Linked DNA regions of Homo sapiens: region 1 is linked to region 2. Evidence: fine-mapped expression QTL. A gene starts in region 2. The other region holds a variant in brackets. All regions are shown on one strand. Distances are from middle to middle. Region 1 overlaps CPNE2 (copine 2). Region 2 holds the start of PLLP (plasmolipin).

Region 1 (5,000 bases), 150 kb after region 2:
GCCCATTCCCAAAAAGACCCTCTTCTTGCCTGGGGTCCAGTATGTCTTTGCAGGACTAACAAATCAGCTACAGATTGGAAATTACAGTTTAGGAGTCATGCAGCCTCTGGCTCCAAGAGTCTGAACCTCCCCAAATTGGGGATGTCACTACTGTGAAACCTAAGATCAGTGCTTGAGATATTTTGCAGACCCTGCACTCCATGGATCAGCTGTCACCACCCAGACTGGTAATCTGGCTCAGTCAGTTCTGCCATTGCACCCAGGAACAGAAGACAGCAAGAAAAACTCACTTCAGACAGCAAGAAAAACTCACTTCGACCCCCTATGATTCCATCTCCAGCCTGACCAATCAGCACTCCCCACTTTCCAAGCTTCTACTCGCCAAATTATCTTTAAAAACTCTGATCCCCAAATGCTCGGGGAGACTGATTTGAGAAATAATAAAAGTCCGGTTTCCTGCACAACCGGCTCTCTGTGAATTACTCTTTCTCCATTGCAGTTCCCCTGTCTTGATAAATCATTCTTTCTAGGCAGCAGGCAAGGTGAACCCACTGGGCAGTTGCACTATCTTTCCCACCACCTCCCGGAAGTCAACTGCCACCTCCCTGGTGACCAGGTGCCTCCCTCCCTTGGCTGGTCCCAATGGTCCCCTTAGGCATGGGACCAGGTCCCTTTCCCTGGGGGAGGAGGCTCTGACTGAGCTTGTACAACTGACATCCCTCAGCCAGTGCTGACTTCATCCATTCACAGAGCACGATGAGCCTGCACAGCCCAGGCACTGGACCAGGCACGGAGAGAAGGATGTGAACTAGACATTGCCGACCATCATCAGGGTCAGCCAGGAACAGGCAGAGAAGGCAAGAGATCTGCTTCATATAGTGGTCAGGGAAGGCTGCTTGGGGGAGGAGGCCCTGAGGGAGGGCCTTGCAGAGTCCAGGAAGGACCTGCGGGGGAACAGCTAGGAGTGCTCGAGGAACACACGGGGGGTTAGGTGGCAGAATCATCCTAAGAGAAGGAAAGGGCTGTGCAGTCAGTGATCGGGTCGGTAAGGAAGGCAGAGGCTGGCCTCAGGGGATCCAATCTGATGGCGAAGGGTTTTTGGCAGGGCAGCGGCTGGATCTGACCCTCCAGTGGGGGAAACAAATGGTAGCTTGTGGACTGGTGGTGTGAGGAGTGGTGAAGGCAGCTGCAGGGTCCACTGAGAGACCTGTGGCCATGGGGAAGTGGGTGAATTTGGGATATTTTAGAGTCTAGTGAAATGAACACTCTAGAAGTGACTTCAGCAACCCTCTTCTTTCAATGGAGGTGGAAGATGAGAAAGGGGTGGGGGCTGGCCGAGGTCTCCCAGGAGGTAGTGGCCAGAAAGGAATTGGAGTCAAGTCTCCTCAACCCAGACCAGCATCTGGGCTGGGTGCCTGATTCCCCGTCACGGCGCTGGAGCGTGAGGAGCAGGGCTGAGTCAGGGGCTGAGAAGTCCTATGCATAGGGCATAGGTCAGTCAGGTCCCCAAGGTCAGGAGAAGGCAGAAGGGACATCAGATAACTGCCCTTAGGGCAGGGGGAGAAGACCTCTCAACTCATACTGCAGAGAGAGGCAAGGGCAGGTCATGGTGGAAATGGGGAGGTGGGCAAGGTGACCTTTGGTGACCCCACCACTGGCATCAGACCCTGCCAGTAGGGCCTGCCTGGGAGCCAGCCTGCAGCTGGGGGCGGGAGAAGGGAAGGGAGACCACGGTTGCAGATGCCTGGGATGGCTGCTTACCATATATTCCAGATGCCACGCAGCTACTTTGGCAGCCTCAGCCGGGCCAGTGAGGCTCTAGGCTTGTTGCTGAGTGTAGGGCCAGGGCCAGACAGTTCAGCAGCCCTCAGTGTAAGGCAGGGGCAGCTCTGATTGGAACTAGGTGGCTCAGAAGGGTCAGCGTTAGGGCCTCAGGGATCACTGCCTCCAGTTTTCCATCTTGTTACTCTTGTGGGAATAACCAGTACCTCGCCCTGGGGAGACATCTCCCGTTGATCACAGCCCTGCTTCCTGCTCAGCACGAATGGATTTGCTTTCTCCAGTCTGTGCTCCAGGAAGCCAGGACCAATCAAGTTGAGCTTGACTCAACTTTTACAATACGTGAAGGTAAAGCAAGGCCCAGAGGTGTCCACTAGGATTTAAAGCAAAGAGAAGGCAGAATATCCTGCCCCCCAGCCCAGAGGACGTGC[G/C]TGTTTCCTGGCATGACTGGCTTGCAGCTGCCTACTCACCGTGGCCGTCCGCTGTTGTGTGGCCTGGGCCGCAAACCGGGCCACGTGGTTGACGATGGGGGAGAAATTGGTAGGACCGTAGAAGCGGATGTGGGGCAGGCAAGCTGAGTACGCCTGGGCAATACCATCCACACCTGCCTCGGGAGAAGAGTCTGGATCAGCCAGGTCTCCCTGACCCCATACCCACTCTCATCTCACTGCTGATGAAACATCTATTTCATGCTTACCCAAAATGTCCCTGCCATGGCTAGCATAGGCCTTGTGAGACAGACTGGAAGCTGCCAGAGGGAAGGGCCAGCATGGTAAAAAGCCAAGAGCCCTGAATGTGAAGTCAGACAGGCCTGTAGAGTTTGAATCCTGCCTTTTCTTTGAGAGGAGTCTTGCTCTGTCACCCAGGCTGGAGTGCAGTGACAGGATCTCGGCTCAGTGCAACCTCCACCCCCCAGGTTCAAGCAATTCTCCTGCCTCGGCCTCCCGAGTAGCTGGGACTACAGGCATGTGCCACCACACCTGGCTAATTTTTGTATTTTTAGTAGAGGCAGGGTTTCGCCATGTTGCCCAGGCTGGTCTCAAACTCCTGACCTCAGGTTATCTGCCCACTTTGGCCTCCCAAAGTGCTGGGATTACAGGCATGAGTCACCGTGTCCAGCCTAAATCCTGCCTTTCTTAGCTGTGGGACCTGGGGCAAGTAGTTTAATCTTTCTGAGGCTACGTCTTTGTCTGTCAATGGGACTGATAATCTACACTCTGGCAGTTGGCAGGAGGGGGGTCTCTCAGGCCTTTCCAGAGAAGGGGCTTGGCGAAGCTTGCAGTGATGCTTTGAGACCATGGGAAGCCATCTGGAGGTCCATTCTGGACATGCTATGGCTTCTGTTCGTGGTTGGGGGATCAAGGCGTTCGCACAGTGCCTGTACAGAGTAGGCGCTCTGTAAATAGCTGCTGTTATGAGCACACTGCCCTGTAGCCCTGCCCAGAAGGCCTGGCCAGGGATGAAGCTGATTGACCAAAATGTCTCTGGAGATCTACCCCAAATCAGACAGCCTGGCCCAGCTTTGGGGATCCCCAGGGAAGGTAGATGCTATGTTGAAGCCAAGTCCTAGGCGGAAAGGTCTCATGATGATAGAAACAGCCCTCTTCCATACCCACCTGCATCCCCTCTCCTCCACTCAGAGTTTTCTTCCTCCCTTCCTCCATCCCTCCCTTCCTTCTTTCATCTTCCTTTTTCTTTCTTTCTTCCTTTCTTCCTCCCTCCCTCCCCTCCTCCCTCCCTTCCTCCTTTCCTTCCTTCCTTCCTCCTTCCCTCCCTCCTTCTCCCTTCCCCTTCCCCTTCCCTTCCTTTCCTTTCCTTTCTCTCTGTCTCTCTCTTTCCTTTCTTTCTCTTTTCTCCTTCCTTTTTTTTTTTTTTTTTTGAGACAGAGTCTCACTCTGTTACCCAGGCTGGAGTGCAGTGACATGATCTCAGCTCACTGCAACCTCTGCCACCTGGGTTCAAGCGATTCTCCCGCCTCAGCTTCCTGAGTAGCTGGGATTACAGGTGCGCACCACCACGCCTGGCTAATTTTTGTAGTTTTAGTACAGACGGGGTTTCACAATCTTGGCCAGGCTGGTCTTGAACTCCTGACCTCTGATCTACCCACCTTGGCCTTCCGAAGTGCTGGGATTAAAGGTGTGACCCTCCCTTCCCCTCCCCATCTCTCTTTCTTTCCTCCCACCTCAGCTTCCTGAGTAGCTGGGACCACAGGCATATGCCACCATGCCTGGGTAATTTTTTTAATTTGTAGAAATGGGGTCTCCCTCTATTGCCCAGGCTGGTCTTGAACTCCTAGGCTCAAGTGCTCCTCTTGCCTCAGCTTCCCAAAGTGCTGGGATTACAGGCATGAGCCACAGCATCCGGCCTCTAATAGTTTCTTAACTGTCCCTAGGAGGCTCAGAAATCCTCTTAGGCCCAGGGGTGGGGATGAACACAGACACCATACTCACTTCCCAGCCCCTGCCTCCCCCTGATCCCCCGCCAAGTACTCCCAGAGCAGGGCTGGCCTTCCCAGCAAGGGGGCGGGTGGGAAGGAGGTGAAAGCAGGTGTGTCTGGTGCCACCCTCACCTCCTCCTGGTTTACACAGGACTTCCTGTCAGTGGCTTCCTGTAATTCTCACTGAACCACCCAGTAAAGTGAGAAGAGCAGCTGTCATAGTTATCCTGGAGCAGGTAAGGAGGCAAAGGCCCAGGAGGTACAGTGACCTTTCCAAGGTCCCACAGCTAGGAAGGGCAGCAGCTGGCCTTGAATCCAGGACTATCTGACTCCAAACTGCAGCTCTTCCCCCTCTGTCACTCTGAGCAACAGTAAGGGGGAGGGGAAAGGAGAAAGAAATGAAAACCTGTCCTCTGCCCTCCCTCCACCCAGGGAGCTGGCCAGGCCCGTAGCAAACACAGGGCAGCTGCAGGTGGGTCTGACACTCACCTGAGCAGAAGGGGTTGGTGGGGTTGAAGTTGATGGCAAACTCATGGGAGACCTGAAACGCAGAGAAAACGCTGAGCTGCAGCCTCCCGCCCCCAAACCCAGACCCAGGCCACCACCCACTGCCAGGCCAAGGCTCCCTTTGAGAGCACCGGCTCATAACCCCCACCCCTACCCTCCTCTAGGCCACTGATACCCCCCACATCTGCTTTTCACCTCCACTGCTGGGTGTGACCCACAGAGAGGCCCAACCACCCTCTCCTCATAGTGGAGGAAACTGAGACCCTGGCAGGTCACC
Region 2 (5,477 bases):
TCCTGCACTTATTAAATTCTTCCCCCAGAATTCCCAAGGCTAGCCCCTACTCATGATTTGGGTCTCTGCATAAATGTCACCTCTTCCCACAGGTCTTCCTTGACCACCTTAACCCAGAAATCACCTGTGGGTGACTCTGTGTCACATTCCCCCATTTTACTTTAGTCACAGCGTTTGTCACTATCTGAAAGTATTATTCCTCCCGGGTTTATTACTTCTCATCCCCACCAGACAGTGGGATCCAACGACTGAAATCCTATCATTTGTGGCAACACAGATGAACCTGGAGGACATCATGTGAGTGAAATAAGCCAGGCATAGAAAGACAAACACCACGTGGTCTCTCTCATATGTGGAATGAAATAAAGAAGTTGATCTCGGCCAGGTGCAGTGGCTCACGCCTGTAATCCCAGCACTTTGGGAGGCCAAGACAGGTGGATCACCTGATTTCAGGAGTTTGATACCAGCCTGGCCAACATGGTGAAACCTTGTCTCTACTAAAATTACAAAAAATTAGCTTAGCGTGCTGGCGGGCGCCTGTAATCCGAGCTACTCAGGCAAGAGAATTGCTTGAACCTGGGAGGCGGAGGTTGCAGTGAGCCGAGGTCGCGCCATTGCACTCCAGACTGGGCAACAAGAGCAAAACGCCATCTCAAATAAATAAATAAATAAATTGATCTCATAGTAGAGTAGAATAGTGGTTACAGGAGGCTGGGGTGTAGTGGGAGGATACAAAGAGGTTGGTTAACAGGTACAAAGTTACAGTTAGGGCTGGGCATGGTGGCTCACACCTGTAATTCCAGCACTTTGAAAGGCCAAGGCGGGTGGATCGCTTGAGGCCAGGAGTGCGAAACCAGTCTGGGCAACATGGAGAGACCCCATCTCTACAAAAAAATTTAAAAAAATTAGTCAGGGCTGGGCCCAGTGGCTGATGCCTGTAATCCCAGCCCTTTGGGAGGCCAAGGTGGGCGGATCACAAGACCAGCCTGGCCAACATGGTGAAACCCAGTCTCTATTACAGATACAAAAAATTAGCTGGGCATGGTGGCTCGAGCCTGTAATTCCAGCAAGACTCCATCTCAAAAAAAAAAAAAAATTAGTTGGGCATGGTGGCGTGCACCTGTAGTCCTAGCTACTAGGGAGGCTGAGGTGAGAAGATCACTTGAGCCTAGGGGTTGGAGGCTGCAGTAGGCTATGATCATGCCACTGCCCTCCAGCCTGGGTGACAGAGTGGGACCTCGCCTCAAAATAAATAAAAGTAAAAAGAAAAAAATACCAATATTGTACATTTCTTTTCTTTTTTTGTTTTTGTTTTTAGATGGAGTCTGGCTCTGTCACCCAGGCTGGAGTGCAGTGGCATGATTTCAGCTCACTGCAACCTCTGCCTCCCTGGGTTCGAGTGATTCTCCTGTCTCAGCCTCCTGTGTAGCTGGGACTACAGGCACCCACCATCATGCCTGGCTAATTTTTTTGTATTTTTGTAGAGACAGGGTTTTGCCATGTTGACCAGGCTGGTCTCAAACTCATGACCTCTGGTGATCTGCCTGCCTTGGCCTCCCAAAGTGCTGGGATTATAGGCGTGAGCCACAGCGCCTGGCCCTAATATTGTATATTTCAAAATATGGTAGCTAGAAGTGGGGATTTTGAATGTTCTCACCCCAAAGAAGCCATAAATGTATGAGGTGATGGATATGCTAAGTACCTTGATTTGATTTTTTTACACAACGTACACAGGTACCAAAACATCACATGGTACCCCATATTTAGGTACAATTATAGGTTGCCGAAAAAGTAATTGCGGTTTTTGCTATACTTTTATATGCAAAAACCGTATAACTTTTGCACCAACCTAATATTACATGTCAGTTAAAAACAATTTTTTAAGTGGCTCTCTTTTTAAGTGGGTATTTGGGAAAAAAAAAATGTGGGAGCCAAGAAGGCCTTGTCTACTTCGTTTCCTGCTGTATCCACAGGGCCTGGCATGTAGTAGGTGTTCAGCAAACATTGGTTGATGAATGCATGATGACCTATCTGTGCAAACCTCTAGGCTCAAGAGGTGTGTGTGTGTGTGTAAGTATTTTAGGGTGCATGTGTGGCAATGAAACTGTATATGACCTCCCATCTTCTGAGTGACCCCTCCTCCCTCACGCTGTCAGGAGCTTTCTGGGGAATATTTCATTTATTCCCTACAACGCTCTGTGAGGCAGGTTTCCTTCGTATCTATATGACAGACGAGGAAACTGAGGCTCCGCGATCATCTAAGTTATATAAAATATGTTCAGAAGTGAAAACAGCATTAATAGGCAGAAAAGGACCTCCCCCTTCTACCGCTTACCCACCGCTTACCCAGACCCTCCCCTTCCCCGCGCTGGGTCTCCCAGGATTCTTCTTTACTTTCTTTTCTATAAAATACAGACGGGGGGAGGGGGGGCGTCTCACTGTGTTACCCAGGCTGGTCTCGAACTCTTGGCCTGAAATTATCCTTTCACCTTAGCCTCCCAAAGTGCTGCGATCAGAGGCAGGAGCCACCGCATCCAGCCTTCTCCCGGGACTCTTCAAGAGTCGCTGCGCCGGGGCCTAGGCCGAGGGTGCACAGCGCGTAGAAAGCGCCTGGGAGAGCGGTGTCCCCCGCGAGCTACCACAAGTTTATCCCTAGGCGCGGAAGCTACCACGGCCTGGGCGAGAGCCGGGAAATTCCCAGCGGGCGGCTTGCCCCGGGGGAGGCCGGCGAAGCGGTCTAGGCTGGTGCTGGCGGAGCCGATTCACGGACCCGGGGTTGTTTACTGGTCCGGGGAGTGGACGCGGCTGCCCACGAACCGGTCGCGGCTGGGGCGGCGGCGGCGAGCAAAGGGTTAAGGGGGCGGCCCCGGCGGCGGGGGCGGAGCCGGGATCTCGGCCGCACCTGGCGCCCCAGGCTCCCAGCCCCGACGCCTCCTGCAGCGCCTGGAGCCACACAGGGATCCGGAGCCTGGGGGAAAAGCGGCGCGGGAGCCGGCACCCACCGCTGGAGGGGCGGCGACGGCGGCCGTAGCGACCTCGGGAGGCAAGCGGAGCCGCCATGGCCGAGTTCCCGTCGAAAGTTAGCACGCGGACCAGCAGTCCTGCGCAGGGCGCCGAAGCCTCGGTGTCGGCGCTGCGCCCGGACCTGGGCTTCGTGCGCTCCCGCCTCGGGGCGCTCATGCTGCTGCAGCTGGTGAGAGCACGCGCGGGCCCACGGGGTTGGCCGGGGGCTCCCGGTCCGGCCAGGATGGGTGAGGGACTCCGGCGCTGCGTTCATTTTTCGCGAACCTTGCGCTCCCCACCCGGGCTCACACTGTCACCGACGCGCTGCGCGTACCCCTAGGGCGCTTCCCGCACGGACGCCCCCAAGATCGCCCTGCATCCCTCTCACCACGACACTACCCCGTGGCCGTCGCTGCGAGCGTGAGCACCCTGCACCGTGTACAGAGTGCCCACTGCCCGTGCCCCATCGTGCCCCCTCCAAGGTGGTTACCAGCGGCCACAGAAGCCCCCACCGGAGCCACAGTCACTGCGCACAACCCGCCAACCCTTCCCAGCCCTCCCTTCCCTCCTCTCTCTTTTTCACCCCTCTTTCTGCCCGGACAGTGCCCCCAGCCCTCTAGGGAACCCAGTCTGAGGCAAAGTCCACTCTCTGACCACCTTCTGTCCCGCTCCCAGCGGCTCCGGGTGGCCGCACCCATGAACATTCCTCATCTAATCTAGAGGGCACATCCGACTCCCCAACACGCACACTCAGGCACTACCCTGTGGGCGCCCGCGCGGGAGCCGGGCTCTTCTAGCTTTCTCTGGGTGACCCGCCAGGTTTCAGCCGGTTTAGCCAGCCCCACGGGACCGAGATATCGCTGGAGGGAGGGGTTTGTGGGTAGCCAGGGGCAAGACTCCTACTCTCTCCCAGACCCCTGTACAGACCCCAACTGAGGCGGACCCATGGGAACATCCTCCACTCCCACACCAGCCACAGGCCCGGATGTTAGCTTCTTCCTCTGCCACCCTTTCGTGAGGGTCTGGAAGCTGGGTGGGTGCCCTGGGTGGGTGAGGGCCTGATACATTTTCAGAGGACTCAGGTGGAATTGGAGTTGGGCCAGGACCTGTATTTCTTAGCAATCCAGCGAGTGGACATTTCCCATTGTCTCCTATTGCTGGGTGCTAGCGCTGCTGCGAGGCCCAAGCTAGAGGGCAGGGTGGTTGCTTTGGTGCCAGACCCTGGGCTGAGGTCCAGTCTCCCTTCCCTGACCTCTCCAGGTGCGGGCCCACCTCTACCTGGGTCAGTGCTATCTCATTTCAGGATTTCTCAGATCTCTGTGGGCCCCCTCCCCAACCTCTGAATCTCCTGGCGGGTTTGTTTAAAATTTAGATTATTGGACTCCACCCCCGGAAAAAAATGTGCAATCGGAATTTGAATCTCAGGAAGTACAGCCAGAAATTCATTTTTAACAGTTCTCCCAGAGTTTTTTGTTTGTTTCTCTTTTGGGGGGTGGGGGAGAAGGGGAGAAGATTCTGTCTTCTGAGGGAAGAGGTCTAGTTCCTGGAATCATTTAATTCTGCAGATGGGGAGAGCCACTGACCCCGCCACCGCTAGAATGCTCTGCTCTGGGCTGGTTGTGAGGGGCACAGCCATGAGCAGCTGCCTGGCTGCCCAGGGGAGAGCCAGGTGGGTGTGAGAAGTGGTGCGAAAGGGCAGAGGAGAAGGAGAGCAATTTCACGACCAGGAAGGCTTGTTGGAGGAGGTGGTTTTTGAGCAGAGACTTCACTGAAATCTGAGGCAGACGCAGGGAAAGGGTGTTCCAAGGGCAGGGAACAGTGTGAGCCAAGATGTGGTGATGAGAAAGTTGAATTAATTTGCAGGGAGTAGCCAACAGGTTGGTGGTGCTGGAGTTGAAGCACTTGTTTCTGGTGTGGACAGAAGCCAAGGGCCTTGTGTAACTTCTGCGAGCTACAGGGTCTAGGTTCTGTTGGTGGCCTTAAGAGGTTTTGGAACAGAAGAGGGATCTTGCTGGGTGGAGGATGATGACTGGCAAGATCCCTGTGAGGGATCCCTCAGCATCCCTGGTGAGGTGGATCCTGAGGCTGGCCCCTGATGGACAGGAGGATTGCTTGTGGCCAGAAGTTCAAGACCAGCCTGGGCAACATATTGAGACCCTGTCTCTACAAAAAAAAGGAAAAAAAAAATAGCCAGGCATGGTGGTATGCGCCTGTGGTCTCAGCTACTTGGGAGGCTGAGGTAGGAGGACCCCTTGTGCCTGGGAGTTTGAGGCTACAGTGACTTTGATCGCACCACTGCACTCCAGCCTGGGTGACAGAATGAGACTTTGTCTCAAACAGACAAACACACACACAAAAAAAAAAAAAGAAAAGAAAAAAGAAAGAGACTAGCAATAGGGGCAATAGGGGGAATGGAAGGCATTGGAGTAAGAGGAGGATGTTGCTGCTGTGGGCCGCAAGGGTCTTGGTAGCTT

The links. PIP is the estimated chance that this variant, and not a neighbour inherited with it, causes the effect.
Region 1: its variant is fine-mapped to the expression of PLLP in whole blood (INTERVAL, PIP above 0.99).

What each region holds. Positions count from the first base shown.
Region 1 is chr16:57,134,532-57,139,531 of GRCh38, reverse strand. CPNE2 (copine 2) reads right to left here. Exons shown (of 16, transcript NM_152727.6): 13 at 4,706-4,757; 14 at 2,250-2,383. Among named protein-coding and RNA genes, the nearest start is that of CPNE2, 44 kb to the right of the region's middle. RefSeq lists an enhancer at 4,250-4,299. The variant G/C (reference allele first, on the strand shown) is at 2,211.
Region 2 is chr16:57,282,122-57,287,598 of GRCh38, reverse strand. It overlaps PLLP (plasmolipin), which reads left to right and starts at 2,927. Exons shown (of 4, transcript NM_015993.3): 1 at 2,927-3,193. The coding sequence starts at 3,059. RefSeq lists silencers at 272-484, 2,734-3,143 and an enhancer at 3,188-3,849.